7 separate regions of the Homo sapiens genome follow, and all the other regions are reported to be linked to region 7. Evidence: microRNA targets listed by miRTarBase, many of them from high-throughput screens and not tested one by one. Region 7 holds a microRNA gene; each other region holds the end of a gene's coding sequence. Distances are between the middles of the regions.

The links. The annotated mature microRNA hsa-miR-6747-3p reads UCCUGCCUUCCUCUGCACCAG and lies in region 7 at 2,626-2,646, shown strand. An mRNA with a match to its seed (bases 2 to 7 or 8) in the 3' UTR can be bound and repressed. Matches are read on the target gene's strand: a 7mer-m8 pairs with bases 2 to 8, a 7mer-A1 pairs with bases 2 to 7 and ends in A, and an 8mer does both.
Region 1: the mRNA of CFAP68 is a reported target of hsa-miR-6747-3p. Seed matches in the 3' UTR shown: 7mer-m8 at 1,005-1,011, 7mer-m8 at 1,140-1,146, 8mer at 1,817-1,824 and 8mer at 2,009-2,016.
Region 2: miRTarBase lists POLR2E as a target of hsa-miR-6747-3p. Seed matches in the 3' UTR shown: 7mer-m8 at 2,508-2,514 and 8mer at 1,166-1,173.
Region 3: the mRNA of GPN2 is a reported target of hsa-miR-6747-3p. Seed matches in the 3' UTR shown: 7mer-m8 at 2,790-2,796, 8mer at 2,653-2,660, 7mer-A1 at 2,047-2,053 and 8mer at 274-281.
Region 4: the mRNA of MARVELD3 is a reported target of hsa-miR-6747-3p. Seed matches in the 3' UTR shown: 8mer at 854-861.
Region 5: the mRNA of TBL3 is a reported target of hsa-miR-6747-3p. Seed matches in the 3' UTR shown: 7mer-A1 at 2,262-2,268, 7mer-A1 at 1,050-1,056 and 7mer-m8 at 881-887.
Region 6: the mRNA of LMAN2L is a reported target of hsa-miR-6747-3p. The part of its 3' UTR that is shown has no 7-base or 8-base seed match.

Annotation. Positions count from the first base shown.
Region 1 is chr11:111,883,237-111,887,299 of GRCh38, forward strand. It overlaps CFAP68 (cilia and flagella associated protein 68), which reads left to right. Exons shown (of 4, transcript NM_022761.3): 4 at 535-2,739. The coding sequence ends at 644. Among named protein-coding and RNA genes, the nearest start is that of CFAP68, 5.7 kb to the left of the region's middle.
Region 2 is chr19:1,086,097-1,090,159 of GRCh38, forward strand. POLR2E (RNA polymerase II, I and III subunit E) reads right to left here. Exons shown (of 8, transcript NM_002695.5): 5 at 3,991-4,049; 6 at 3,788-3,866; 7 at 3,376-3,455; 8 at 478-2,624. The coding sequence ends at 3,390. It overlaps ARHGAP45 (Rho GTPase activating protein 45), which reads left to right. Exons shown (of 23, transcript NM_012292.5): 23 at 1-532. Among named protein-coding and RNA genes, the nearest start is that of POLR2E, 7.2 kb to the right of the region's middle. RefSeq lists enhancers at 1-293, 2,860-2,959.
Region 3 is chr1:26,876,051-26,880,113 of GRCh38, forward strand. GPN2 (GPN-loop GTPase 2) reads right to left here. Exons shown (of 5, transcript NM_018066.4): 5 at 82-3,699. The coding sequence ends at 3,627. GPN2-AS1 (GPN2 antisense RNA 1) reads left to right here and starts at 84. Exons shown (of 2, transcript NR_199049.1): 1 at 84-260; 2 at 2,068-2,195.
Region 4 is chr16:71,634,378-71,638,440 of GRCh38, forward strand. It overlaps MARVELD3 (MARVEL domain containing 3), which reads left to right. Exons shown (of 3, transcript NM_052858.6): 3 at 1-2,088. The coding sequence ends at 426. LOC124903711 (a long non-coding RNA gene) reads right to left here. Exons shown (of 2, transcript XR_007065108.1): 2 at 3,458-4,006. Among named protein-coding and RNA genes, the nearest start is that of MARVELD3, 10 kb to the left of the region's middle. RefSeq lists an enhancer at 3,107-3,658.
Region 5 is chr16:1,978,374-1,982,434 of GRCh38, reverse strand. TBL3 (transducin beta like 3) reads right to left here. Exons shown (of 22, transcript NM_006453.3): 21 at 3,964-4,061; 22 at 1-3,883. The coding sequence ends at 3,750. NOXO1 (NADPH oxidase organizer 1) reads left to right here and starts at 966. Exons shown (of 8, transcript NM_172167.3): 1 at 966-1,321; 2 at 1,416-1,496; 3 at 1,704-1,779; 4 at 1,891-2,068; 5 at 2,254-2,438; 6 at 2,532-2,645; 7 at 2,893-3,010; 8 at 3,086-3,518. The coding sequence starts at 1,256. The coding sequence ends at 3,383. RefSeq lists enhancers at 990-1,049, 1,526-2,105, 2,106-2,683, 2,684-3,263, 3,264-3,843 and 1 more and silencers at 1,913-2,207, 3,000-3,119.
Region 6 is chr2:96,703,593-96,707,655 of GRCh38, forward strand. It overlaps LMAN2L (lectin, mannose binding 2 like), which reads right to left. Exons shown (of 8, transcript NM_030805.4): 8 at 2,337-3,806. The coding sequence ends at 3,664. FER1L5 (fer-1 like family member 5) reads left to right here. Exons shown (of 53, transcript NM_001293083.2): 51 at 1-40; 52 at 623-770; 53 at 876-1,291. The coding sequence ends at 1,100. Among named protein-coding and RNA genes, the nearest start is that of LMAN2L, 34 kb to the right of the region's middle.
Region 7 is chr11:62,565,594-62,569,656 of GRCh38, reverse strand. MIR6747 (microRNA 6747) reads left to right here and starts at 2,586; the gene lies at 2,586-2,646. EEF1G (eukaryotic translation elongation factor 1 gamma) reads left to right here. Exons shown (of 10, transcript NM_001404.5): 6 at 2,129-2,258; 7 at 2,647-2,851.

The DNA.
Region 1 (4,063 bases), 49 Mb from region 7:
CAGAACCTAACTCAGTGACCGGCACATAGAAGGAACTCAAATAAAAGTAAACTGAATAGGTGAATAAGTGAGGCTGGGCGCAGTGGCTCACACCTGTAACCCCAGCACTTTGTGAGGCTGAGGCAGGCAGATCACTTGAGGTCAGGAGTTTGAGACCAGCCTGGCCAGCGTGGTGAAACCCCATCTCTACTAAAAAAAATACAAAAATTAGCTGGGCTTGGTGGCGCATGCCTGTAGTCCCAGCTACTCAGGAGGCTGAGGCAGGAGAATCACCTGAACCCGAGAGGTGGAGGTTTCAGTGAGCAGAAATCAAGCCACTGCACTCCTGCCTGGGTGACAGAGTGAGACTCTATCTCAAAAAAAAAAAAGAAAAAAAAGGTGAATAACTACATGAATGAGTAAACAGGATTTTTTCTTCAATTTTAACAGGACTTACTGTCTATTCCCTAGAAATAAGAGCAAGATCAGTTACTAAAACTCCTTAGTGTTGACTGTTTTCATTTGTCTTTCCTTCCTTTTTTTTTCTTCCCTCAGGATTTAAGCGAGAGCCTCACTGGTTCCCAGGACATCAACCTGAACTGGATCCTCCCCGATACAAATGCACAGAAAAGTCAACTTACATGAATAGCTATTCAAAGCCTTAAATTGGGCATCACTCAGGATGTGTATAAGATCTTAATATTGACTAGTTTCACATCCAGGTTTCTAAGAAATGATAAGATACTTCACTTTTCCAGAGTGAAATGTAGGAGGGAGCACATTCTAAGTACAGCTAAAAATTTAGCTCACTGTAACACAGTTTCACTCTCTGAATAAATAAAGCAAAAAACACAGTAAATATTCTTTATCCCTTTTTTTGTTGTTGTTTTAACCAAGATTTAAATGTCAAATTTAATACAGCAACTCAGTTCTACATTTGGGGTGTTGTAGAAGGGCCTTAAAAAGAATTATTTTAGGCCAGGCACGGTGGCTCATGCCTGTAATCCCAGCACTTTGGGAGGCCGAGGCAGGTGGATCACGTGAGGTCAGGAGTTCGAGACCAGCCTGACCAACATGGTGAAACACTGTCTCTACTAAAAACACAAAAATTAGCTGAGCATGGTGGCTCACGCCTGTAATCCCAGCTACTCAGGAGGCTGAGGCAGGGGAATCGCTTGAACCTGAGAAGTGGAGGTTGTGGTGAGCTGAGATCATGCCACTGCACTTTAGCCTGGGTGACAGAGCGAGACTCTGTCTCAAAAAAAAAAAAAAAAAAAGAATTATTTCTCTGAAGTCTACAACCACTGTGGTCTTCCCTTCCTTCTGTCGTAGCAAGACCTCAGAATCTAGCATAACTTAGGCTAGGTTTGGCTAGATGCTTTCTGGGTATAAGCCAGAGTCGTATAGTGCAACTTTGCTGTGACCTTAGTGAACATCCCCTCTTGAGGACTACAAAAACAAACGTAACTTTTTAAAATTATTATGGAGAATTTTACGTAAAACAAAAGTAGACAGGCTAGTCTAATGAACTCCCATGTATCATTACCCAGCATCAACTATTTATGACTAATCTTACCTACTTCTACTTTGTCTTATTGAATTAATTTTGGAGCAGATCTTAGAAATAGAATTTAATCTATAAAAATCTTGGTGGGCTGGGTGCGGTGGCTCATGCCTGTAATCCCAGCACTTTGGGAGGCTGAGGTGGGTGGATCACCTGAGGTCAGGAGTCCAAGACCAGCCTGGCCAATGTGGTGAAACTCCATCTCTTCTAAAAATACAAAAATTAGCTGGTCTTGGTGGCGGGCGCCTGTAATCCCAGCTACTTGGGAGGCTGAGGCAGGAGAATTGCTTGAACCCAGGAAGCAGAGGTTGCAGTGAGCTGAGACGGTGCCATTGCTCTCCAGCCTGGGCGACAAGAGCGAAACTCCGTCTCAAAAAAAAAAAAGAAAAGAAAAAGAAAAAAAAAATCTTGGTATACTGGCTGGGCACAGTGGCTCACACCTAATCCCAGCACTTTGGGAGGCTGAGGCAGGAGGATAGCTTGAGGCTGGGAGTTCAAAACCAGCCTGGGCAACATAGCAAGACCCCATCTCTACCAAAAAAAATTTTTTTAAAGATTTCAGTATATTTCTCAAAAAGATAAGGACTGTCAATTGTCTACTCCCCCCCAACAAAGGTCACTAAGGAAACCTGTTGACTAAACAAAGCTCATTAAACCTATTGTAGTGTAGCAAAGGAGACCATCAACTTGACACAGAGTCTTGGTAATGATTCAAAGGGAGGATGTTAGAGTAAGGTATTTATAAGGATTTGAGATAAGGGTCCAACTGGTTTAAAATGAGTCAAAATAGGGAACTAGTAGAGACTGAGAAAGGGTTGTGAATAGCTTAGGTTTGGTAAACTTAGGAAATCAACAGTCTTAATTTTAATATGGTTAAACTGATTAGTATTTCCTATTTTTTTATCTACTGTGTAAGAAGACACTATAATATATGGGCATTACTGAGAGATACTGCCCATATGTTGTCCTCGTAAGCAAGGAGATATTTTTTATCTCCCATATATTACCTCTCAAACCTTTGTTACTTTAGTTTCGAGATATAGATCCAGAATTTATGTTGTTACTCAGTAGTGAGGAAGTTTCTTTTTTTTTTCTAAATGGCTATCAAGTTGTCCCACCATTAGTTATTGAAAAGACCATAATTTTTTCACTCCTATTCAATGCCATTTTTATTGTAAATAAACTATGTACATGTAGGTCTGTTTCTGGGCTACTATGTTCTATTAGTTTAATTGTCATTCCTTGTATTATCTTAGTTATGATGCCTTAATTGCACCATCTTAATTATGATAATTTTATTACATTATTATTATTTTATATCTTAATACCTAATAGATCAAATGCTTTCGTCTTGTTTTCTTCAAGAATATTAGCTATGTTTGAACTTTTGCATTTCCATATAAAATTTAGAATCAGCTTGCTCCATAAAATGACACTGTTAGGATATTGATTGAAACGGTATTGCATCATTAGGTCAGTTTTAGAATTTGAGTTCTCATTAATTCTAATAATTTATTTGTATGTTCTTACAATACAAATATTGTTTTATAGACACATATTTTAAGTTTACATATCGTATGTCTTATTCTATTTCCTATGTATCTAGCACATTTTTAAAATTGAGGTAAAATATACATAACATGGCTGGGCGCAGTGGCTCATGCCTGTACTCCCAACACTTTGGGAGGCCGAGGCTGGCGGATCACTTGAGGTCACGAGTTTGAGAGCAGTCTGGCCAATGTGGTGAAACTTTGTCTCTACTAAAAATACAAAAATTAGCTGGGCGTGGTGGCAGGCACCTGTAATCCCAGCTACTCCAGAGGCTGAGGCAGGAGAATCTCTTGAACCCAGGAGGCAGAGGTTGTAGTGAGTCAGTATCATGCTATTGCACTCCAGCCTGGGCGACAGAGCGAGACTGTCTCAAAAAAAAAAACCTATACATATATATATATATATATATATATATATATATATATATATATATATATGTATGTATATATATACACACACATAACATAAAATTTACCATTTTAGCTTTTTTGTTGTTGTTGTTCATAGAGACAGGGTTTCACCATATTGCCCAGGCTGGACTCAAACTCCTGACTTCAAGCAGTCCACCTGCCTCAGCCTCCCAAAGTGCTGGGATTACAAGCATAAGCCACCATGTGTGGCCCATTATAGCTATTTTTAAGTGTGTAATTTAGTGGCATTAAGTATTTTCACAATGTTGTGCAATGTTCACAATGTTGTGCAACCATCACCACTATCAATTTCCAGAACTTTCTCATCATCCCGAACTAAAACTCTGTACCTATAAAACAATAATGTCTCATTCCCCGACCCCCACTCCCTCAGCTCTTGGTAACCTGTATTCTACTTTCTGTCTCTATGAATTTACCTATTCTAGGTACCTCATTTAAGTGGAATTGTGTAATATTTGTCCTTCTGTGTCTGGCTTATTTTACTTAGCGTAATATTTTCAAGGCTCATGTATGTTATACCATGTATCTTCCTTTTTGT
Region 2 (4,063 bases), not on the chromosome of region 7:
CGCCGTCCTGGGGTCGCTGCCGAGAGCGCCTGGACTTCGACGTCCCACCAGCGGGCGCCTCCTCCCAGAGGCTTCCAGGAGCACGAGGGCCTTGCGGCACAGGACTGTGCCCTGTGCTGTCCCCTGCACCCCGGCTCAGCTGAGCTGGGGAACACTGCTGTCGTGTGAAGTCACAGTGGCCTTGTTGGTGCCCACAGGGCTGTGTGGATGGAGGAAGCTGTCCCTGCCCAGTGCATCCCCCAGGTCATCACGGGGACGCAGGAGGCAGGCCCTGCCCTGCCCTCTCCTCACAGGTCTGTTGCAGGGACTCCAGAAACCATTCTGGGAGCCGTGGATGGGGGCGGAGCTGGGGTTTGGTGCAGTTTCCAGGGTGCAGTACAGCAGGGCCTGAATACTGGCCCTGGACTCCCTTTTCCAGAACACCAGGTGTGGCCACCTGGGGCTCAGGTACACAGTGGGGTCTCTCGGAAGCCACCGTGTGGTTCTTTCACAGGCACGTTTATTTTGCTGAAATAAAAAGTTTTTAATCGGGTGTTTTCTGTGGCAGCTGCAAGCTTAGAAGATTTTCTGTGGCAGCTGCAAGCTTAGAAGAAGGGGCCAGGGAGGGGACAGAGAGAGCCCCGTGGCGTGGCCCTGGGCCTCCCCCTAGGGGAGGGATGTGTGAGGAAGGGAACCCCCCGCCACGGGGCCCCGCGAGGTGGGAGCCCGGGTGGTCTTCACCACAGGCTGTGCAGACGGTCAGGCATCGAATGACCTCGTCACGTCCACCTGCAGCCCAGGGCAGTCCAGGAAAACGTTCTCGATGACGGACGTATCCCCCGGCTCTAAGGTTTCGCACGTCAGCCCCACATGGCCACCAAGCACTGGAAACGTGGCCCATGCGCCTGTGGAACTGCATTTTTTTTTTTTTTTGAGACAGGGTGTGACCCTGTGGCCCAGGCTGGAGTACAGGAGCACAATCGTAGCTCACTGCAGCCTCGGCCTCCTGGGCTCAAATGATCCTCCCGCCTCAGCCTCCCAAAGTGTTGGGATTACAGGTGTGAGCCACTGTGCCCAGGTAATCTTAAAGTTTTTTGTAGAGGTGGGGGGTTTCTCTGTGTTGCCCGGGCTGGTCTTTTAACTCCTGAGCTCAAGCGATCCTCCACTTCCTGGGTTCAAGTGATTCTCCTGCCTTAGCTCCCAAGTAGCTGGGATTACAGGCATGCACCACCACGCCCAGGTAATTTTTGTATTTTTTGCAGTGATGGGATTTTGCCATGTTGGTCAGGCTGGTCTCGAACTCCCGACCTCAGGTGATCCGCCCACCTCGGCCTCCCAAAGTGCTGGGATTACAGGCGTGAGCCACCGCGCCCGGCCACCTCCAGAATTTTCTCATCTTCCCAAACTAAAACTGTGCACATGACACACTCTGTCCCCTCCCTCCTCCCCAGCCCTGGGAACCCCCATCCCCACCCAACTCCCCAGTCCCGGGAACCCCCATCCTACTTCCAGTCTCTGACGACTCTAGTGACCTCCTAGGAGTGACATCAGTGTTTGTCCCTTTGGGTCTGGCTTGCTTTGGCCAAGACAATTTTGAAAAAAGTACATTTGGAGAGAAGGGGAAGCACTGTCCCCATCACACACACAGTCCGCGGCCTGGGGATCTGGGGACCCTGCTGCACAGAACAGTGGGCGCGTTACAGACCACCGACCGCCCGAGGGTGAATTACATCTTAATAAAGCTACTGTGAGAGAACCACGTGGCTAGGTTAAACTTGGGCAGGCGAGGCCTTCTGAAATCAGACAGTAAGCAAACGGGGAAGTAGAGCCAGATCCCAAACGTCTGTAAGAGGAACTGGCCGCAAACCACAGCTGCACAAGCCAGAGAACAACTCCACACCCTCACGGGAAGGGAAGAGACAGACACGCTCACGCCTTACCCAGGAGCACGAAGTGGGAGGGCAGGGCGAGGGCCTGGGGAGACACTGACCCCTGAAGCCAGCGCGAGGAGGGCACACCTGCCAGGCTGACCTCGTGTGCTTGGGGTGAGGCAAGGCCACCTGCTGGAAACCTTGTTAGTCGGCCTGGTTTCTGTATCAAGCAAATTTATTTGCTCAAAACATCTTTACCATTTGAAAACACCCAACCTCCTACAACAACCGAGAACTCCAGAGCTGGCATCTCGCACCCTGGTGGCTTGAGCGCGTGCATGGCTGTGAATGGAGTAAAGAGCCGAGGCCGGGCGGGGGCCGCCACGCATCAGGGCCCCCGAGGGAGGGAAGACGAGGGGTGGAAGGCCGAGGGCCCAGGAGGAAGCAGTGGCTGGTGGGAGACCCGGACCCCAAACCCCCAACAGAGGGGACCCAGCGTGGTCTGGGTGAAGACCCGGCACCAGCTGCCCCCAGGTGACCTCCCTCTGGGGGCCTTGTTCCTTCTGAGGCTGCATCTCGCACAAATCCACAGGTGAATGGGGCGGGCTGGGCCACAGGAAGCCTCACCCCAGGACGGGAGAACGTGGGTGGAGGCCACCTGCCTTGGGGAGTCCAGAGGAGCAGCAGCCGTGAGAGCTGTGGGGGCCGGATTCTGGCAGGGCAGGGGCGTTTGTCCTGCAGGGATGGGGGTCGCTGTGTGTCCGCCTCTAGGGGCTAGGAAAGGGGGAGAGTGGTCACACGACAGGGGCAGATCCAGTATGCCCAGGACAGCACAACGCCCACCGAACGTGACGGGGTGCGGGAGGCCTGGCAGGAGGCGGCCCAGGCCGCAGTGCAGAGGCCGGACGGCTCCCTTGTGCCCAGCGGTCACACAGGCGTGGGCAGTAGCTCTGACCTCAAAGGAACCGTGCCAGCGTCAGACCAGGCCAAGCCCCACCCCTGGGCTGAGTGTGAAGTGGGGCGGCCTGCAGGACAGCAGCTCGCCATGACCAGAGTCCAGGGGAAGCTGGGAGGCTCTCGCCATGGGCAGAGGCTGTCCCGCTCCTGAGACTCCGGCCAGTCCCTCCCAAGGTGCCCACTCAGGGAAGGGTTGGCCTGAAGCTGTGCCTCCTCTCTCAGCTCTGGGGTCTCTGGGCAGGTTTCTAAACCCTCTTCTGGAAAGTCCCGCCGCACAACTGCCCTGCAGGTGAACGTCTCCTGCTTCTAAGGTGGGTCAGCGGCGGAGAGACGCACGCCCCGCGTACCAGGACTCTCCCGTCCAGGCGCACAGCCCCAAGAGCTGCAGCCTACGGTCGGGTGGGGTCTGGGGGTCTGGGGGTGTCCTGGGAGCGCCTGGTGGCCCAGCTGGGCTGGTGCTAGGAGGGTCTTGCTGCCGGACAAAGCAAGAACAGCCCTGCACACCGACGGAGGGGACGACACCCCTGCCTCTGACCCCACCTCAGTGCCTGTCCCTCGGCCGTCTCACCTGTCAGGCGGTAGCTACTGCACCAGCCGGTAGGTGATGTACCTGCCAGCCGTCTCACTGGGCCGGATGATCTTCACCACCTGCAGAGACAGAGAGCAGGGGCTGCGAATGCTTGAGGGGTCTCACTGCAGTCACCAGACAGCAGGCGGGCAGCACACGGGCTGGGGATGGCCGGCAGGGGTCCGAGATGGCTGACCCTGGGCTGTGGGACCCGCTCCCTGGGAACCTGGGTCACGCTCTTCTCTGGGCCCAGTGGCCCTGGCTTTAAGAGGGGGATATTGGGGGTGTGGTCTCGAGGTCCCCTCCAGGCCCTGGATCAAGGGGGAGGGGCTGTCGGGGAGGGACAGAAGCCCCCTTCTCCGAGTGGTCAGCTCAGAGCAGCCCCAGGGCCCCTTCTCCCCACAGGGCTCACCTGCCCACGCTTTATCCCAAAGTAGCGCGCCACAGGGTCCCCCGCCTGGATCCTGGGCAGCTGGTTCTCTCGGAGCTTACTGCGAAGCACCGTCAGGAAAATGCCAGACAGGGCCGTTGGGGGGGCAGGGGTGTGTGTGGGGGGGGAACGCGGAAGTCTCGAGGGACAGGGAGGGGCGGGGCCGGTGGGGCTGGAAAGGATACTATCGGGCCAGCAGCTCTGTCACCTCCTCCTTGGTCATGACGACGTGCTCAGGGACTAGCTGCCGAGAGAGGA
Region 3 (4,063 bases), not on the chromosome of region 7:
GTATAAAAATAAGGCTGAAAGAATACATAAAATATCTCCAGGTATTTACAGAGATGAGAAAAAAAGAGAATACACAAAATATACATTTGAATATAGAATTTATTTTTCTCTTAAACAGATGACCCCATAGAAAGTTTCCGTTATGGGATTCTGGGTGACTCATTTTCGTTTTTTTTTTTTTTGAGATGTACTTTCCATCTTGTTACCCAGGCTGGAGTGCAATGGCGCGATCTCCGCTCACTGAAACTTCCGCCTCCCAGGTTCAAGCGATTCTCCTGCCTCAGTCTCCTAAGTAGCTGGAATTACAGGCGCATGCCACCATGCCCTGCTCATTTTTTTGTATTTTTAGCAGAGACAGGTTTTCACCATGTTGGTCAGGCTTGTCTTACACTCCTGACCTCAGGTGATCAGCCCGCCTTGGCCTCCCAAAGTGCTGGGATTACAGGCGTGAGCCACCGTGCTCGGCCTTCTCTTTCATTTTCTAAGTTTTTTACTTTCCTATATTTATTAGGAAATTTAAAAATAATCTTAAGGATGACTGCCACATGCCAGCCATAATGGAGGATGGTCTTTCTTCTACCCTAGACATTTCACACTGAACAGGCCTCACTTGGATCTCGGACATCTTCCTTTCTGCACTGTGCAGATCCCCTCAGTATATGCAGAGAACAGAAAATCATTTTGCTGCCAGTGGAAGGTAGACAGAAGCTACGTTTATTGGGGAAGAAAATACCCTTGCTGTCAAACCATGGCCTGAAAATAAAGGCCTTGGATTACTCCCACCCATCTCCACTCCATGGGTGCAGAGAATGCTGAGGGTGCTTGCATACGAGACCATAAAGTTGTAAAGGATGCCTTCCAGCCCCCATTTGGTTTGTTATGGTGAGAGCTGGGGCCTCTGTGAGTGGCAAGCATCAAAACCCACGACCACAGCCGTTGGTACTGCTTTCAAAAGCATAGCACCCACCCTAATGCCCTGATAAAGGATTTGTCCAGTAGCCTGGGCGTCAGGATTCCTGGGCTCTAGGCCCCACAGGTGATTCACAGCTAGCCCCAGGCTGTGCCTCCTGGCCTCAGTTTTCCTGGCTTGCTCTATTGGTACTTCCTACCTACTCTGTGGGGTGTTAATAGGGGTGAGGTGCTTTGAACTTCTCAGATGAAAGAGGCTGGGAAGCAGCACCCAGTTATTATCCCCTTTACAGCCAGGCGTGGGAGCTGAGGTTGCTTTCATACTGTTCCAGCCACAGTAGCCTCCTCATAGCCCCTCATTCATCTGCCTTTGGCTCTGGCTGCCACAACCAGAAAGCAAAGCAGTCAGTCCTATTTCAATGCTGTTTCAGAACAGATGTCCCTAAATTAATTTGCCAACTGCCCAAACCACTGGTGAACTATCTATGATTCAGTAATACTTTACAGGTGCCTAATTTCTTTCTCCTGATTGGCTGCAAAACCTGTGGGACAAGGGCTGTGACTTCTCACCAATAAATATACCAAAGGAGGGATACTCGCAATTTAGTCAGCAAAATGGGTTATGAGAAAGCCAGGCTGACCAAAGTTCAAACTTCTCATCTTTCTGCTTCCTCACTGTAACACGGGCAATGGCTTATTAATTCTCCCCATCCTGTCTATCTCTAATGAGGATTGTGTGTGTGGAAGCACTCTAAAATACCAAGCACTTCATATGTGTTAATAAGTCCAAATGTGGCCGGGTGCAGTGGCTCACGCCTGTAATCCCAGCACTTTGGGAGGCCAAGGCGGGTAAATCATGAGGTCAGTAGTTCAAGACCAGCCTGAACAACATGGTGAAACCCCGTCTTTACTAAAAATACAAAAATTAGCCGGGCATGTGGTAGGCGCCTGTAATCCCAGCTACTCGGGAGGCTGAGGCAGAGAATTGCTTGAACCTGGGAGGCGGAGGTTGCAGTGAGCCGAGATTGTGCCACTGGACTCCAGCCTGGGCGACAGAGAGAGACTTTGTCTCCAAAAAAAGAAAGTCCAAATACATGCAAATAAAACTTGGCATAACAGTCTTGCCCAAGCCATCAGTCCTGCCCCTTCTGCCACCAGGTTACAACTGCAAAAAATTAGGTTGGGGTGCCACCTACTGGTTGAAAAATATATGAACTGCATCCAGCCAGTTGCAAGAGCAAAGAAAAAACTTCCAAGCCCTCTTGATTTTTGCCACACTCTCATAGGAACTGCCATATTATATAATTAATATTTTTCTTTACACAACTTACTATTTTTTTTTGAGACAGAGTCTTGCTCTGTCGCCCAGGTTGGAATGTAGGCACAATCTTGGCTCACTGCAACCTCCGCCTCCTGGGTTCAAGCAATTCTTCTGCCTCAGCCTCCCCAATAGCTGGGATTATAGGCGTGCAACACCATGCCCAGCTAATTTTTATGTTTTTAGTAGAGAGGGGTTTCACCATGTTGGCCAGGCTGGTCTCGAACTCCTGACCTCAGGTGATCCGCCCGCCTCAGCCTCCCAAAGTGCTGGGCTTACAGGCATGAGTGAACACGCCCAGCCTTGTATTTCATTTTTGAAGTACACCTTTTTTTTGAGACAAAGTCTCGCTCTGTCACCAGGCTGGAGTGCAGTGGTGCAATCTCAGCTCACTGTAACCTCTGACTCCTGGGTTCAAATGATTCTCCTGCCTCAGCCTCCCAAGTAGCTGGAACTACAGGTACGCGCCACCTATGCCCAGCTAATTAAAAAAATTTTTTGGTAGAGATGGGGTTTCACCATGTTGGCCAGGATGGTCTCGATCTCTTGACCTTGGGATCCGCCTGCCTCGGCCTCCCAAAGTGCTGGGATTACAGGCGTGAGCCACCGCACCCAGCCTTGAAGTAAACTTTTAACCACTACTGTAAATGGAAAACTAGTTAACACTTGTCAACAATAGAATAAAACCATAAAACAAATACAGTGAATATAAAACATTAACAAAGTTCTAGTTAGGAAGTGTTGCCTGTGAAAGCTGAAGCTTGAGGCTCTGTTAAAACTGAAAATTGTGGGACATGGTGGCTCACACCTGTAGTCCCAGTTACTCAGGCGTCTGAGGCGGGAAGATCACATGAGCCCAGGAGTTTGAGTCCAGCCTGGGCCATATAGCAAGACCCCATCTTTTAAAAAACAAACCTCAGAACCAAAAACTGAAGATTAATAAAAACACATGACTGGAGACTGAATGTAAATCCTATGTGACTGAATGTGAATTATATGCTTTGGGGAAATACTGATTATTCCAAGGCTAGGTGACACTCCCTCATTCTTCCCCAAACCCCTGGGCCCGGAAGACTGAAGAAAAGTTTGGAAGTCACAAAAAGTAGAAAATAAACTCTTGTATTGTAGCACATTTCATCACAGCCTGACTAGGACCAGTGCTCGACTTTCTGGTGGCAGGGCCCAGAGCTCACGGACACCACTGACAGTATGGGGGGTGTTCTGCTTGGCACCATGTCTGGCTTTTTGGCCAGAAGTCCTTTGCAGAGCTGAATATCCCCTTGCCAGCCCGCCAGCTCTGGCTGGGAGGACTTGCTCTTGGGTCTGCAGCCTGCATCAGGAGCCTCCACTTTCCCCAGTGCTGGATTATGCATCCTGCTCTCCAGGGTCCACCTTGTTGCTACAGCTGCATGGCTTCCTGCTCCACTGACTGGTTCGAGGGTGCCAGGTACTTCTCCTGGATGCCCAGTGTGCTGAGGAAGGGTGCGTCAAGGCTGATAGCATAGGCAGAGGATGGGGAGCTGGTCTGGGCAGGATCTGACTTCCGCTGATGCCTACACTCCAACCATGTCCATCCCTCTCTTCCTCATAATTATAGGGACCAATCAGGTATGAGAAGCCTCCAAAAACACCCAGACTCAAATGCTCCTCTATCTGCCTCTTCCACACACTGCTGCGGATCAAAGGACTGGACAGTACTAACCTTGCAATTTTGCGTTATGGCACATGCTCTGGAGCCAGACTAAGGGAGTTCAAAACCTGATGATGTCTGGGTCTGGGGTCTGACGAGGACATGGAGGTTAGCCATGGCTAGGTTGGCTATGTTAGGACACCATG
Region 4 (4,063 bases), not on the chromosome of region 7:
CAGTTCTACCAGCTAAAGCTGCCCATGGTCACTGTGGCAATGGCCTGTAGTGGAGCCCTCACAGCCCTCTGCTGCCTCTTCGTTGCCATGGGTGTCCTGCGGGTCCCGTGGCATTGTCCACTGTTGCTGGTGACCGAAGGCTTGTTGGACATGCTCATCGCGGGGGGGTACATCCCGGCCTTGTACTTCTACTTCCACTACCTCTCTGCTGCCTATGGCTCTCCTGTGTGTAAAGAGAGGCAGGCGCTGTACCAAAGCAAAGGCTACAGCGGTTTCGGCTGCAGTTTCCACGGAGCAGATATAGGAGCTGGAATCTTTGCTGCCCTGGGCATTGTGGTCTTTGCCCTGGGGGCTGTCCTGGCCATAAAGGGCTACCGAAAAGTTAGGAAGCTAAAAGAGAAGCCAGCAGAAATGTTTGAATTTTAAGGGTTTCTAAAACGCTCTGACAGATGCAAGTGGTGGTGGAAGGTAGTCTGAGCCACTGCCTTTCCCAAGAATCCCTTGTTGTGGAAGTTTCCAGTGCTGGAAAAGCAGCGAGCCAGCGTTGGTGTGGTGGGCGGAGCTCCCAGTCGCATGGAGCGGTGTTCATGGATGCAACAGACCCTGGCTTCTGGAGTCCTCTGTGAGTGAGGGACCAATCAAAATTATTTTTCAAAAAGCAAAAAAATGGCCGGCCTCGGCGGCTCACACCTGTAACCCCAGCACTTTGGGAGGCTGAGGTGGGTGGATCACTTGAGGTCAGGAGCTCGAGACCAGCTTGGCCAACATGGTGAGCCCCCGTCTCTACTAAAATACAAAAAAATTAGCCAGGCGTGGTGGCGGGCGCCTGTAATCCCAGCTACTTGGGAGGCTGAGGCAGGAGAATCGCTTGAATCTGGGAGGCGGAGATTGCAGTGAGCCGAGATCCCGCCACTGCACTCCAGCCCAGGTGACAGAGCGAGACTCCATCTCAAAAAAAAAAAAAAGCAAAAAAACTGGACCCCAAGAGCCACAAGGAAAAAGCATGTACTACAACAGAGTGCACCTCTTCATTCAGTAAAGGGAGGTCACCAAGAGAATTTGATGAACCTTACCTTCAAAGTTCCTGGGCACAGTGGCTCACACCTGTAATCCCAGAGCTTTGGGAGGCTGAGGTAGGAGGATTGCTTGAACCCAGGAGTTCAAGTTTGCAGTGCGCTATGATTGTCCCACTACACTCTAGCCTGAGCAACAGACCAAGACCGTATTGCCAAAATACCAAAAAAAAAAAAAGTTCATGGAGAGCCACATAGACATGAGACCACACTTCAGCCTGAATTTTTCTAAAACACAGTTGTCTCAAGCAGATTACTCCACACGTTTTTCCACACTGAACTCTCCAGTCCTTCCACTTCCTTAATTCTGCAAATGGAGGGGGTGGGGACTCTTGGGAAACTACTCCTGTAAAATTGAAGTTGGAGGTAGGCGTGGGCTGAGGAAAGAGGAATCAGATTAATTCTCTGGGTTGCAAAGAGGCTATTCTGCAAGCCCCTTACAGTGGCCCTGAAAGCTCAATAAGTGTTTTGTACCTCTTGTAAATGTGCCATTGTGTGAAGCATTAAACCCAACATCTAGAATTCAGGATTCATCCAGAATAAAAGGATGTAAAATCTTTCCCAACAGAAGAGTGTTACTTTTGGTCAGACAACTTCATGGGTTCTTACTGCACATTAAATTATGACTTATGGAACATTGCAATATATTCTCGGTCCTTAAGTTATGACTTATGGAACATTACAATATATTCTCGGTCCAAGTGAGTAAGTTCTTTGCTTTATGTGAATCCAATAAAAAATCCAAAGAATTTTAATTTGGAGTTGATGTCCTCTTTACAATACATTTATAATATTCTCTTAAATACAGACAATTTTTCACATTTAAAAGGTGAGTTCCATTTGAGTTTAGAAAAGGAAATATATATATACATGCTTGTATATGATTGGAAAATTTCTTGAAGAATAACATCAGAAAGTATTAAGTTTTGCTTTTGAAGAGAAGGGGACTTTTCATTTATACATGGCTTGACTGCACATGTATTAATTTTAGAAAAATAAAAAGTAAAAAAGTTGACTTGCTCTCCTCAGTTTTTTTCAGGACCACATTTAAAGTTCAAAGGCAGGTATGGATATATAGTTAAGCAGATTATTAAATGATCAGCCACAAAAACAGCCTCACCCAGAAAGACTTTTTTTATTTTTTTATTTCTTATTTTTGAGACAGGATCTGGCTCTGTCACCCAGGCTGGAGTGCAGTGGTGGGATCTCAGCTTACTGCAACCTCTGCCTCCCAGGCTTAAGCTGTCCTCCCACCTTAGCCTCCCGAGTCACTGGAACTACAGGCCCGTGCCACTGTGCCTGGCTAATTTGTTTATTTTTAGTAGAGATGGGGTTTCACCATGTTGCCCAGGCTCATCTCGAACTCCTGGGCTCAAGTGATCCACCCACCTCAGCCTCCCAAAGTGCTGGGATTATAGGCGTGAGCCACCACGCCAGACCCAGAAAGACGTTATTTACAACAAAGATCTCATGTCGTTTCAGGATCTCTGCTTCCCTCTACCAAACCCTCTGCTGTCTTTCCGGAGACGTGTCCCATCCCACCATAGAGATAAACTGCTAGCTCTGCTCGCCACCCTTTTCCCCTTCCCCTGCCCCATGTGTCTTTCTGCACTAAAAGCATGCTTGGAAATACTTGAGCCTGCCTTGATATTGATAGCTAAGCCAGGCCAACCCTGGCTGGAACCTGGGATAATATTCCCTGGCCATATTCCTTCAACAGTCCGAATATCATTGGACCCAGCAGAAGACCATTATTCCTGTCAGTTGGCGCAGTCAACAGGTGATTGACAAGATCTAGATTTATTCCATTGTAGCCTAACAGATAGATGCTGCCTGGGTTTTGAATCCGTCCCAGAGGAATTTCAGTATTTTCAGTATAGTATTTCTGTTTTCCTTCAGGGGGCGAAATATTAACGTCCATGAAGAAGGAAAACCAAGGGAGAGAAAGGTGTAGGGTCCACTAACCCCCATGAATTAAAATGATGTCTGGGTCAATTCACTTGCTCTGCTGTAGGGAGAGTGTAAACCAGCAGCTTACTGTGCCGGAGTGATGAGTGGGCAGTTTTAGTCTGACGTTATTTTCAGTTTTAAATTAGAGGAATGTAACTTCTCAACTATCAGAGCCCTCAACTACTATGTCCCTGTGGACCGCTAGGAATTTGTGTGGGCCCAGCAGGAGATAGGATTAGCAAGCTGAGTAGCTGTTGCCTAAGTACTTTAGAGTCTTTCACTGCCCTGATTATAAACATCATGGTACCCCCTAGTGTGTTAGAGGGTTGTCCTGATTTCTGGGAAACCACACTCTTCTTAAATTTATCCCATTCTTTATTATGTTTCTCACCAATCCCCTTCCATTTTGGAAACATTACTGAGTAGCGTCACTATCCATTTGTACATTATTTTATTTTTAGAGTATTTTCACATACTTGCTTTTTTGTTGTTGTTGTTAACTTCCCACAGTATCACACGGTTGCTTTCATTTGAGCCTCCCCACATCCCTGTGGGTGAAGATTGGCAGACTTAGCTTCATTTGTCATATTGTCTGAGGCTTAGAAGGACTGAATGGCTTGGCCAAGATGACAAGGCAGTAAAAAGCGGGGACTTGAACCTGGTGGTCCTGCTCTCGGTTCATTTGTATTTCTCTTCATGCTCATCCCTGAACACCACGGGAATGGCAGGAGACCCTCTCCCAGAAGGACACCTAAGAAGGATTTGGGGCCTCTGTCAGTAACAAATAAAAGCTGACCTCGGACAAGAAGATCTTCAGTCTGTTGGCCTGTTGGCTTCCTCTGCCTCGTGCCATTTGTGGGTTCCTTTCAGTCCAAATATCTATCAGTAAGGTCCTGGTTGAATAGACAAATCCATCCATACAATGAAGTCGAAGGCCACTTAACAAAATGTGGCTCCTCTTGTAGGAACTGATCTGAAAACATCTGGAAGATACAGTAAATGAAAAAATCAAGATGCAGAACAGTGTACATGGTACACTT
Region 5 (4,061 bases), not on the chromosome of region 7:
TCCTGTCTTCCAGGGGAGCAAGGTCTCCCCTGGGTTCACACGCTGGACCCCACCAGGTCAGCTGGGCCCTCAGCTGAGACAGGGAGAAGGTGACAGCTGGCTGGGGGAACCCTGCAAATCAGCCCTATGTGAGCAGGTGTTCATTGCCCATGCCAAGACCAGGGACAGCTTGAGGGCATGAGAGAGAGTGCTGGTGGGACAGACACACAAAGGCCCTTTGTTGCAGCCAGGGCAGCTTCCTGGAGGGATGCCTTAGAGGCTGACTGCTCCCTGAAGGGGCTGGAGTAGGTGCATCCCAACACAGAACTGGTGGCCCCAGCACGAGGAAAAACCACTGTGTGCCAGGGTTGAATGTGGCTTCCGAAGCCCGAACTATAAGGAAGCAGCCAGAGAGGTGGGGCACCTGGGCGAGCCTCTGCCCAGGCCATGTTTGCAGTAAGTCATGGCAAATCGTGAATTGAGAGGTGGTTCTCAAAACAGCCCTAGTGACCACTTCCCTGACCACCACCCCCACCCACCAAATGCCAGTGACTGCACAGATGGGCCCTCTTTCTCCTACCCCAAGTCTCCTCACTGCAGGGGAACCCCTGGGGTGAGCCTGTGAGGTCTGCCCCTCCCCCAGCATGTATAGAACAGCTCACAATAATTACGCATTTAACACACATTTCCTCCTCTATGAGTTGGGGACATTAAGAGACCTTTCCTCCAGCATTAGGATTAAGTCAGACAAAGCACTTAAAGCTGTAAGCACTGAGTCCTTGGTTCTGCACAGAAATCCCCAGGCCAGTTCAAAGTTGTTGGGCGCACCCTGGCAGGGCAATTACCTCACAGGGTAGGGGAATCCAGAGAGGTGGGCAGGACAGGTGGCGCTTTGATTAGCCCTGCCTTCTCCTCCCTCCTCCTGTGGCCAGAGGCAGGCAGGAGGGCCCCAGGCAGCAGTCCCGCCTACCCTTCGCCCCTTCTTCAGTCTTGCACGCCTCCAGGGCTGGAAAGCTCATTCTTCTTCTTCCTCCCAGCAGCTCTGCCTGGAAGTCCCCCAATCCCTGTGCTCCTGCCCCCAGATCGTGGGCTTGGGGGACAGCAAGAAAGCTGCAAAGGACTCAGCTGGGGCGGCTCCACAAGGACCCCACAGGCTTGAGGTGTTGCCAGGATTCTATCCCAGGGGGTTTTCTGGGTCCCCCAGAGCCCTCTCAAGCACGGGGAGGCAGAAGGGTCCTCGCCCATTTCAGGAATCTGCAGCCTGGAAGCCACAGCCATGGCAGGCCCCCGATACCCAGTTTCAGTGCAAGGGGCAGCCCTGGTGCAGATCAAGAGGCTCCAAGTAAGACCTGGCTGGGTCCTTAGTGGCCCCAAGGGATAGGAAGGGGGTGCCTGGACCAGCACCTCCACGGCACTCCCAACTTTTTGTCCCCCAGACGTTTGCCTTCTCTGTGCGCTGGTCAGACGGCAGCGACACCTTCGTGCGCAGGAGTTGGGACGAATTCAGGCAGCTCAAGGTGAGTGACCCTGGGCCACCCTGATGCCGCGGTGGCGGCTTCCCCACGCGGCTGCCTCCCACTGGACTGCCTCCCATCAGTGACTCCCACTGGAGGCCCTTCGTCCCTGCTGAAGCTCCCAGCCCCTGCCATCCGGGTGAGGGACCCCGCCCTCTCAAGGGTGCACAGTGGGCTCTGGAAGACCAATGCCCTGGTTCCCGCCCTCAGAAGACCCTCAAGGAGACCTTCCCGGTGGAGGCGGGCCTGCTGCGGAGATCTGACCGCGTTCTCCCAAAGCTTCTCGGTCAGGCCAGCCTGGGTACGGGAGCGGGGAAGGCGGTGGCTTGCCTGGGGGCGCCAGGGACCAGTGAAGCCCAAAGCGGCGTATCACAGTACGTTTTTGTGGTGCCTTAAGATGCACCACTGTTGGGACGCGTGGGGCGCACGAGCCGCGGCCTGGCGCGCCTGCAGCTGTTGGAAACCTATTCTCGGAGGCTGCTGGCGACTGCAGAGCGCGTGGCACGGAGCCCGACGATCACTGGCTTCTTCGCACCGCAACCCCTGGACCTGGAGCCCGCGCTGCCACCCGGCAGGTGCCTGACTCGCCCCAAACTCCCAGCATGCAGCGGCGTTTGGAGCTGGGAGAGGTCCAGGGTGGGGGGGAACAGCCAGCGAATAGGGGCAGAGAGTGGGAGGCTGGCGGTCTTGCCGGGGTGGCGCCCCCAGTTTCACCCTCCCCATCCGCCTACCTCTCACTCGTACGGGCTGCCCTTCCCAGCCGGGTGATCCTGCCCACCCCAGAGGAGCAGCCTCTTTCTCGCGCTGCGGGCCGCCTCTCCATCCACAGTCTGGAGGCTCAGAGCCTGCGCTGCCTGCAGCCCTTCTGTACCCAGGACACGCGGGATAGGCCTTTTCAGGCGCAGGCCCAGGAGAGCCTGGACGTGCTGCTGCGGCACCCCTCAGGTAGGGCCCCCCAAGAACCCAGGGATTTGCTCCTCTGCTCCTGGACCCGAGGGAGCCTCGAGATTTGAGTCCCTGCCCGCTTCTTGCGCACAGGCTGGTGGCTGGTGGAGAACGAAGACCGGCAGACCGCCTGGTTTCCAGCGCCCTACCTGGAGGAGGCGGCCCCGGGCCAAGGCCGGGAGGGAGGCCCGTCCCTAGGGAGCAGCGGTATGCGCCTAACCCCACCCCTCACGCCACCACTGCGGCTTGACCGTGTGGCAAGACTGGGCCAGAAGCACCGCGGGCAGGGCGGGCCAGGAGCCCGTGCTTGGTCTCCGCACCTAGAGGAAGCCCCGAACCGGTCTTAGAGCGGCCCCGCCGTCAGCAGACTCAAGCAAGGAGAATGTGGAGAAGGGTGCGGGCGGGCCTCGTCCTCTGTGGCCCCGCGGTGACTCCAAACACCCACTCCCACCAGGTCCCCAGTTCTGTGCTTCCCGCGCCTACGAGAGCAGCCGCGCAGATGAGCTGTCCGTGCCCGCGGGGGCGCGCGTGCGCGTGTTGGAAACGTCAGACCGCGGCTGGTGGCTATGCAGGTACGCGGGAGCGGGCGTGGGCAGGGCAGGCTAGCCGAGGCGGGCGGGGCCCTAACCACACCCCGCCCCTCGCAGGTACGGCGACCGGGCGGGCCTACTCCCCGCGGTGCTGCTGCGGCCGGAAGGGCTGGGCGCTCTCCTGAGCGGGACGGGGTTCCGTGGAGGAGACGACCCGGCGGGTGAGGCCCGGGGCTTCCCTGAACCCTCCCAGGCCACCGCCCCTCCCCCCACCGTGCCCACCCGACCTTCGCCGGGCGCCATCCAGAGCCGCTGCTGCACCGTCACACGCAGGGCCCTGGAGCGGCGCCCACGGCGCCAGGGCCGCCCTCGAGGGTGCGTGGACTCTGTGCCGCACCCCACGACGGAGCAGTGAGCGCGAGGATCCCGATGAGGGGATGGACCGCGCCATCCCAGGGCTGGGGAGGAGCGGGGAGGGCGGATCTCCCTGGCCAGCAGGGATGGGAGGGGGCCATTTGCTGTTCCTCTGAGTAAAGCTTGTTCTGCATGACCCCCACCGTCTAAGCGTGCGGAGCCGCGGGCTGGATCTCTGCCAGGCCAGGGTGCGGGATGGGCGTGGCAGGGCCGAGACCATCAGCTCCAGTGCCCTTCTGGCTGGCTAGGTAGGGTGTTGGCCAGGGTGGGGGGCTGGACTGCAGTCCAGAGAGACAGAGCCGGCCAGGAGAGCGGCCTTTATGGGTTTTCCAGGGGTTCAGGATGGACTGGAGAGAGGCCGGACCGGCTAGGGCAGTGCGCCTTTATGGGTTTCCCAGGGGGTGGGGGCGGCGGCCGGCACAGGGAGCTTCATGTTGTGCCACAGGAAGTCCAAGAAAGCGGCGGCCTGGAGGGTCCTGCTGAGCCGCTGAAAGTGCCGCTCTGGGGTTGGACAGAGGGAGGTCAGGGGGGTGGTCCACACGCCCACCAGGATCCCCCAACCCCAGGCTGTGCCCACATACCAGTGTAGGGCAGCAGGGCCTCAAGCGCTGCCCGCACGCCTTCGTAGGCCAGCAGCTCCTCGGGGGCCTCTCGCCTCAAGAGCACACCCAGCACGGCC
Region 6 (4,063 bases), not on the chromosome of region 7:
AGTCGGAACCCAACCAGTACCCCACACTTCATCCTCCCCTGTAAGGGTCCTTGGGGCAAAAGCACCAGATCTTTCTTGCTCCTCAGTGTGTATGGGGTGGTGACCAGTGGGCCTATCATGGAGAGGTGGTAATTACCTCCCACCCCACAGCTCTGTGCTCAGTTACAATCAGCAAAGAACAGACTTGGGGTGAGGGTTGGAGTAAGCAAAAGTTGCCTTTTTTTTTTTTTTTTTTTTTTTGAGATAATTGTCTCACTCTGTCACCCAGGCTGGAGTGTGGTGGCACAATCTCTGCTCACTGCAACCTCTGCCTCCTGGGTTCAAGCGATTCTCCTGCCTCAGCCTCCTGAGTAGCTGGGATAACAGGCACATGCCACCATGCCCGGCTAATTTTTGTATTTTTAGTAGAGACGCGGTTTCACCATGTTGGCCAGGCTGGTCTCAAACTCCTGACCTCAGGTGATCCACTCACCTCGGCCTCCCAAAATGCTGGGATTACAGGCGTGAGACACTGTGCCTGGCCCAGTAGTTGCTTTTTTAAAAAAGAAAGCTCTTTGCATCAGATTACTTGACCTGAAGGTTCTCCCTGCCATTCTCTGACATCTCCCTGGCTCCTGGACAGACGCACCAACACCTCTTTCACGTGGCTGCGGTCACCAGTTCAAAACTTCTGCTATATTTTCTGGAAACGCTATCGCTTCAAACTCATAGCCTTTATGGTCATATCGATTATAGCACTTATGCTGTTTAACTTCATCTATTCAGCTCCGGTGAGTGGCAGCCATGGGGGCAAGGACAAAGGTGGTCTCGGGATGACTCTGGGGACAGCGTCTTCAGCTTGCCACCCCAGGCTAACTGTTGTCTGTTCTCTCTAGCACTATTTGGCCATGAGCTGGATCAAACCTCAACTTCAGCTGTATCCTCCCATTAAAATATTCAATATCATCAATTCACTAAACACCAGCAACGCCAGCTCTTCCATCCTTCCCACCCAGGATCCAAACCTAAAGCCTACAATAGACCATGAGTGGAAACTCCACCCAGGACCCACAAATCACCTGAGTGATATTTTCCCAGAACTTCCAGCCCCAGGAGACTAATTAGTCCATGCTGCCTGGCTTTCCTCCTGCTACCAACAGCCCTCCCCTTGGGCTGGCTACCAGTTCTTTGTTTCTATCTTCTAGAATATATGCAAGATGCTAGGAATATTCTGGCTATTGTGTTCAGAAATCACTTTCAACAAGACGAGCAGAGCTGTAATTTTCCACTGAAATAAACAAGTTCTATAACAGAGAGCCATCTTGTAATTTGGGGGCGCTGAAGACAACATGAAAGGCTGAAGATGCCAGCCCTTCAGACAAGACTCACAGGGACAGGGAGTGATGTCATCTTTATATACCACCTCTAGTCCACAGGGTCTCTTCATGCTAAGAGGCTCGGAATCAGAGGGCAATGGAGGGAAAGGGTGATTGTGAGAAGTGGCCCTTATGGGTAAGCAGCAAGCCGAAGCACTGGCTCTCACCCACAGCATGCATGTACAGAACAGCCCTACCACGGACCAGGCATCTCCCTCCTCTAGCACAGCTAGGATGACACTGCCCAGGACAACATTCCACCCATTCATGATGGGAAACATTTGTTTCTAGAACAAAAAGCAAGAACCAAAGCAGGGCATCCTATGCCAGGTCAGGTGGTTTTCTTGCACCATACATTTCTCTAAAGGACCCCAAGGCAGGTGGGGACTGCATTTCATGTCTTCCCTGCCCTCTTTAAAAAGCCTCAAGGTATTCATGAGCTGGAATCATACAAACCCTACAGGTTCCATCTCTCTCACTCTGCCCCTCCCCTCTGATGAGACCCCTTCCACCTGCACTGCTGCCTTGGCCATCTCAAGAGCCCACCTAGGTCCTCCCACGGGTCCATACAATCTCCCCTTCAACTCAAAAAAGACAAAACCACCATTTTCTTTTTCAGTTCTCCCTGCTCCAAGGCCAAGCTCTAGGTCAGTTTGTCCTCTGGCACCCTGGAGCCATTCTACTATTGTGGAGGGGAGGTGGGAGGAAGATGCCTCCACCTGAATCCCACCTGCAGGAGAGCACTATAGCCTGTGCTGTTTAAGTGCATGGGAAGGAAAGAAAGCCTGAAGAGACAGAGACCTCTGCCTAGCCAAGGTGACCCCCTTTCCTTCTGAGCTGAGCTGAGGGCTTTTCCAACCCAGGAGAAGGCAAAACAACGGTTGATGGGCTTGAAGCTCAAAAAAAAGGCCTGCTCAGAATAAAGGCCTGAACTTTCCCCAAACCCACTCCTAGAAGAAAGAACACAGTCAGAAGCTCATGTTTGGTTCCATCGGTGATTTTAAGAATTTCATTTAGGCTACAGAGGTTCATAGGAGGACTCAGAGTTCCAGGCCCTCCAAGGAGACTCTGGCCTGTAACTGATTTAATCCCAGGGCAGTAAGGTGAGCAGCATGTAACCCCTTGTCAAATAAGGCAGTGGAATAAGGGTTGACAGAGGCCAGCACTCAGGCTGTGCTGCTCAATGACAGTGAACTCTTCCAGGCACAGATGATGAGGGTCTGTTGCTCTCAGACTTGGAACATGAGAACAGCAACTGTCTCTTGTCCATTAAGAAAAAAAAAGCCAAATTTCTTCTCTGGGCAATATCCAAGCCCAAGGTGTAAGAAGAAAGCTTCCTTACACTTTCAGCACTCAAAGTGGGATTCCAAAAATCGTAACTACAAAACATGCAGCTAAGCAGGCTCTAGCAAGTCCAGAAACATCTCCACATGGTCAGACCACATGACAAATGTTGCTTTTGGTTTGATCAAACCTGGAGCTGGTCAGTTGCACAGCTAATCCATGGCATCCATGATGTCTTCCAGGCTTCTCTTGATTTTTACACCAACCTTTAGCCAAACTTCACTGAGGGCCTGAAGAGACTTGATTGGGAAGGCCATGGACATGCCAATAGACCCAAGACCCATGCTAGGGAACAGTGATCCAAAGCAGAAAGCCATCTCCCTAGGGCCACCTAATGAAGGCCAGTGAAACGCAGGTGTGTTCTGCAGCCCCAGGCCCCAACAGAGAGGCATCCAAATGCCTTTCCCAGCTCAGGTTGCACACAGAGAGGACAATGAATGGAGTGAAAGGAAGGTAAGGCAGGGAAGAAGTTTCCATCCTGGTTTCCAAAGAAAGCTCCTCAGGTAGGCAGAGGGTTGGGTCAAATGCAAAACCCAACGAATGGATGGTCAGAAAGCCTGTGGTGTTACCAGTTTTTAATTCTTTGTGGATTCAAAACTGAAGTAGAAGGGCCTTCTGAGTCAAACAACACGGCAGCCTGGGCTATGAAATTCTGTTCTGTGATTTTGGCATCACAACCACGTAAATTCTCTTCACACCTCTGCTCCCACATGGAAGGACTGCAGGGAAAGGCACATCACAGCAGCATTGCCCTGGGGTGGGTGGCTTCCCAGACCAGAGTTAGATGTCCCCATGCACAACCATGGGAATGCGGGGTCCCTGCATTCAAAACTCCAGTGACAGAATATAGTCCCCAACCAGCTGCTAGAGACAAGAACACTCTCCAGGCTGCATGCTCAGGCCAGTGCCTGCTCCTTCCATACCTCATGGGTGACAGTCACAAAAGTGGTGGCAGCAGGAGGGCTCAGTAGAAGCGCTTTCGGCTCTGTTCCTGCCATTTGTTGTAGAGTATGATACCAATGACTATGGCAAATACAGAAAACACCAGGGAGAAAAAGACGATGAGGAAGAGGGCCAGGCCACTCAGGGGCGGCAGTGGAGCTGTCACTGAGGAAGCAAGAGAGAAGCAAGTCAGAAAACAGGGAGCCCACCCAATAGGGAAGGATCAAACTATAGGCTGTCCGGCCCCCAGTTTCTGACACCTACTTCTGGGAAGCCAGAGCTTAGACCCCCTCTTTCCAACTGAGAAACAAAGCGGCCCTCCTGCTGCTCATCTGTAACTTGAAGGGGAAAGGCAGATGAAAGTGCTCCCTACCCTTCAGAAGAAGAACACAGAGCAGAGACCGCCCTGTGAGCTATGGGTA
Region 7 (4,063 bases):
CCTCTTCTGGTCTTTGCAAACTAAAAAATGACAACAGTTCTACCTGAAGCTTTGCAAACTGAAAACTGACAACAGTTCTACCTGAAGCTGTTTATTCTTATTTTTCTTTGACCATGCTTAATACACCAGACACTAAGTTTAATTTGAAGGACTGTCCATTATTTATTTATTTATGTATTTATTTTGACAGAGTCTTGCTCTGTCACCCAGGCTGGAGTGCAGTGGCACGATCTTGGCTCATTGCAACCTCCACCTCCCAGGTTCAAGCGATTCTCCTGCCTCAGCCTCCCAAGTAGCTGGGATTACAGGCATGCGCCACCAAACCCGTCTAATTTTGTATTTTTAGCAGAGATGGGGTTTTGCCATGTTGGTCAGACTGGTCTTGATCTCCTGAGGACCTCAGGTGATCCACCCGCCTCGGCCTCCCAAGTGCTGGGATTGCGGGGGTGAGCCACCACACCCAGCCAGGACTGTCCATTATTCTAAATGCGTTTGAATATTTTCTTTGAATGTTCTTTACTTTCTGAAGTTTGATGGATGGGTGGGTGTGGGGGGTGTGTGTGTGTGTGTGCGTGTGTGTATAGTATGGCCAATATAGATAGTAAATACCTATAGTGTTTAGATTTTATTTGGCAAAAAAGTCCTCGATAGCCCTCTGTGGGTCTCAATCTTTTTTTTTTTTTGAGACGAAGTCTCGCTCTTGTCCCCCAGGCTGGAGTGCGATGGCGCGATCTCGGCTCACTGCAACTTCTGCCTCCCGGGTTCAAGTGATTCTCTTGCCTCAGCCTCCTGAGTAGCTGGGATTACGGGCATGTGCAACCATGCCTGGCTGATTTTTGTATTTTTAGGAGAGGCGGGGTTTCACCATGTTTGCCAGGCTGGTCTCGAACTCCTGACCTCAGGTTATCTGCCCGCCTCGGCCTCCCAAAGTGCTGGGATTATAGGCGTGAGCCACCGCTCCTGGCCGACGTTTGAAATTTAAAAGATTGGAAACAGTAGATCTGAAATAGTTTTGTAAAGGAGCAAGACAATTATTACTCCTACTCCTAAATGGAGGATGGACCCAAGCATCCATCCATTAAACTGGACTACACTGAAAAAAAAGATTAGAAAAAGAAATGGAGGCCAGGTGTGGTGGCTCACGGGTAATCCCAGCACTTTAGGAGGCCAGGGCAGGAGGATTGCTTGAGCATGCGAGTTCAAGATAAGCCTGGGCAACATAGTGAGACCCCATCTCTATTAAAATTTTTTTTTTTTTTTTTTTTTTTTGAGACAGAGTCTCACTCTGTCACCCAAGCTGGAGTGCAGTGGCGTGATCTCGGTTCACTGCAACCTCCACCTCCTGGGTTTAAGTGAGTCTCCTGCCTCAGCCTCTGGAGTAGCTGGGACTACAGGCACGTGCCACCACGCCCAGCTAATTTTTTTTTTTTTGAGACAGAGTCACTCTGTCACCCAGGCTGGAATGCAGTGCCGCGATCTCCGCTCACTGCAAGCTCCGCCTCCCGGGTTCACGCCATTCTCCTGCCTTAGCGTCCCGAGTAGCTGGGACTACAGCTGCCCGCCATCACGCCCAGCTAATTTTTTTATTTTTAGGAGAGATGGGGGTTCACCGTGTTAGCCAGGATGGTCTCGATCTCCTGACCTCGTGATCCGCCCGCCTCGGAGATCCCAGCAGTTTGGGAGGCCGAGGTGGGCGGATCACTTGAGGTCAGAGTTCGAGAACAGCCTGGCCAACAGGGCGAAACCCCATCTCTACTAAAAGTACAAAAATTAGCTGGGTGTGGTGGCAGGCACCTGTAGTCCCAGCTACTCAGAAGGCTAAGGCATGGGAGGCTGAGGCACGAGAATCACTTGAACCCAGGAGATGGAGGCTGCAGTGAGCTGAGATCACGCCATTGCACCCCAGCCTGAGCGATAGAGTGAGACTCTGTCTCAAAAAAAAAAAAAATTGAAAAAAATGAAGAAATGGGAAGTAATCCAGGGAAGGATGATGTTGTATGAAGCTATTGTCTATAGGGTTTGAAAAGAAGGTGAGCACTGGGACTTAGGTAGAGCAAGGACTCTTGCTGTGAACAGAACTCTTCAGGGCCTTTCCACTGACTTTGTTTACACCCTTATGTCCTGGCAGGTTCTAGAGCCTTCTTTCCGCCAGGCCTTTCCCAATACCAACCGCTGGTTCCTCACCTGCATTAACCAGCCCCAGTTCCGGGCTGTCTTGGGCGAAGTGAAACTGTGTGAGAAGATGGCCCAGTTTGATGGTGAGTCTGAGGAGACTGGGAGGCATATGGCCAGGATCAGGGTCTGGTTTGCTCTGCATCAACCCCTTGATTTCCTGTCTTGCTTTTGGGTTATGGGGACCTGCAGAATGTAGGGTGTCAATGTGGTAGCTAATATTATGTGCAGTTTCGTGTACACTCATACCCTGACTAATTTGTATTACTATATAGATTTGCGATATAAAGTATTTGTTGCTGAGTGTGTTGTTGCTGGAGGACACACAGTGAACTGATGAGCAGTCTGGGGCCTAAGTTCCTTACTTGTCCCATTCGTCAGTTTCCTCTGTTACCTTGCTTGCTCTGTGTGGTTTTGGAGGGGTGTGGAAAGAGGCAGAACATTCGTTCACTTTCCTGCCTTCCTCTGCACCAGCTAAAAAGTTTGCAGAGACCCAACCTAAAAAGGACACACCACGGAAAGAGAAGGGTTCACGGGAAGAGAAGCAGAAGCCCCAGGCTGAGCGGAAGGAGGAGAAAAAGGCGGCTGCCCCTGCTCCTGAGGAGGAGATGGATGAATGTGAGCAGGCGCTGGCTGCTGAGCCCAAGGCCAAGGACCCCTTCGCTCACCTGCCCAAGAGGTAAGGATATTGGAGGGTGGAGGGTGTGGGACCAAAGAAGGCCTGTTCTCACCTCTGTATGTCCCCCCTCACACACAGCTAGAGCCAGAATTTTAGGTTGTCCATATAAAGTTAAAGGTATATTTTAGTTGCAAATAAAGCAGCTTTCTGGCTGATAATCAGGAATTGGGCAAATTTTGATTGTGGAGAGCAAGTTTCAAGTACAGCCAGTACTGGGGAAGATTGAACTCCTATTCCAACAAAGACAGGAACAGATTTTGATATAGTGGTAAGTTGGTTTTGAGCAAGCTCATTTGACCATTTGAGAGCTCTGAGAACAAATACAGGGAGAGGCGTGGGGAGGAAGAAAGTGCAGAGAGCCTTGCGGTGCGCCACGCGCCCGGCTGTGCGGAGATAGTGGATGCCAGAGCAGGGTCCTTTGAATTGTTTTGTTTTCTGTTTTGCTGAATCAGACTGTACAAAAATTGCTCACTAAGAAAAAGGATGAAGATCATAGCTAAGTAGTGTCTGTCTAGTTCATTGTTCCACAACCGAGTAAAGTCCCCAAGTAGAAGAAAGTAGGTGTCCTCTGTATCCCTTTTTCAGTTAAAGGTAGGGCTTCTTGGAAGAAATAATATAGTAAAAACGAGATTTTTGGCATGAAAAATGTAGGACGCTGAGTGCTTGCCCAGTTCTCTGGGATGGAGTCTTTCTTCCATCACTGCTCCAAGTCATTTTATTGGGAGTTCAAGCAGTTTGAGAAATATATATTCTGTGGTCACTTTGCTTTGGAACTCCTCTTTCTCTGTACTTTTTCCTCCCACTCACCCTGTCATTTCCAAAGCCGTTCATCTTTTTACTGCTTGGTCTGCTAGGGTTTACATTTCACCCTCTCCCATCTTGTAATGGCTTGGATACCGGGTGAACCAGCCTAAAGGAGCACCCACTGGTAGGGACACAGTAGCTGTGCATAGAATTGTGAATTACAAGCATTGCACTAATAGATGGGAGCAACTTGGGGTATAGCTGAAAGTTCTTACTCCCGGGTATTTTGTACAAGACCAGGAAGGCTCCATCCAGACACAGGCACTCTTTAAAGATGTATTTTTTGAACTAGTGATTTGCCTTGAATTTAGCACAGGTGCAGGTCAAGAGTGAGCAGGATTTTTGGTGTGTGTAAATAGGTCATGATAATTAACCCAAATTACATATTGTGTTGTAACTCAGACGTTG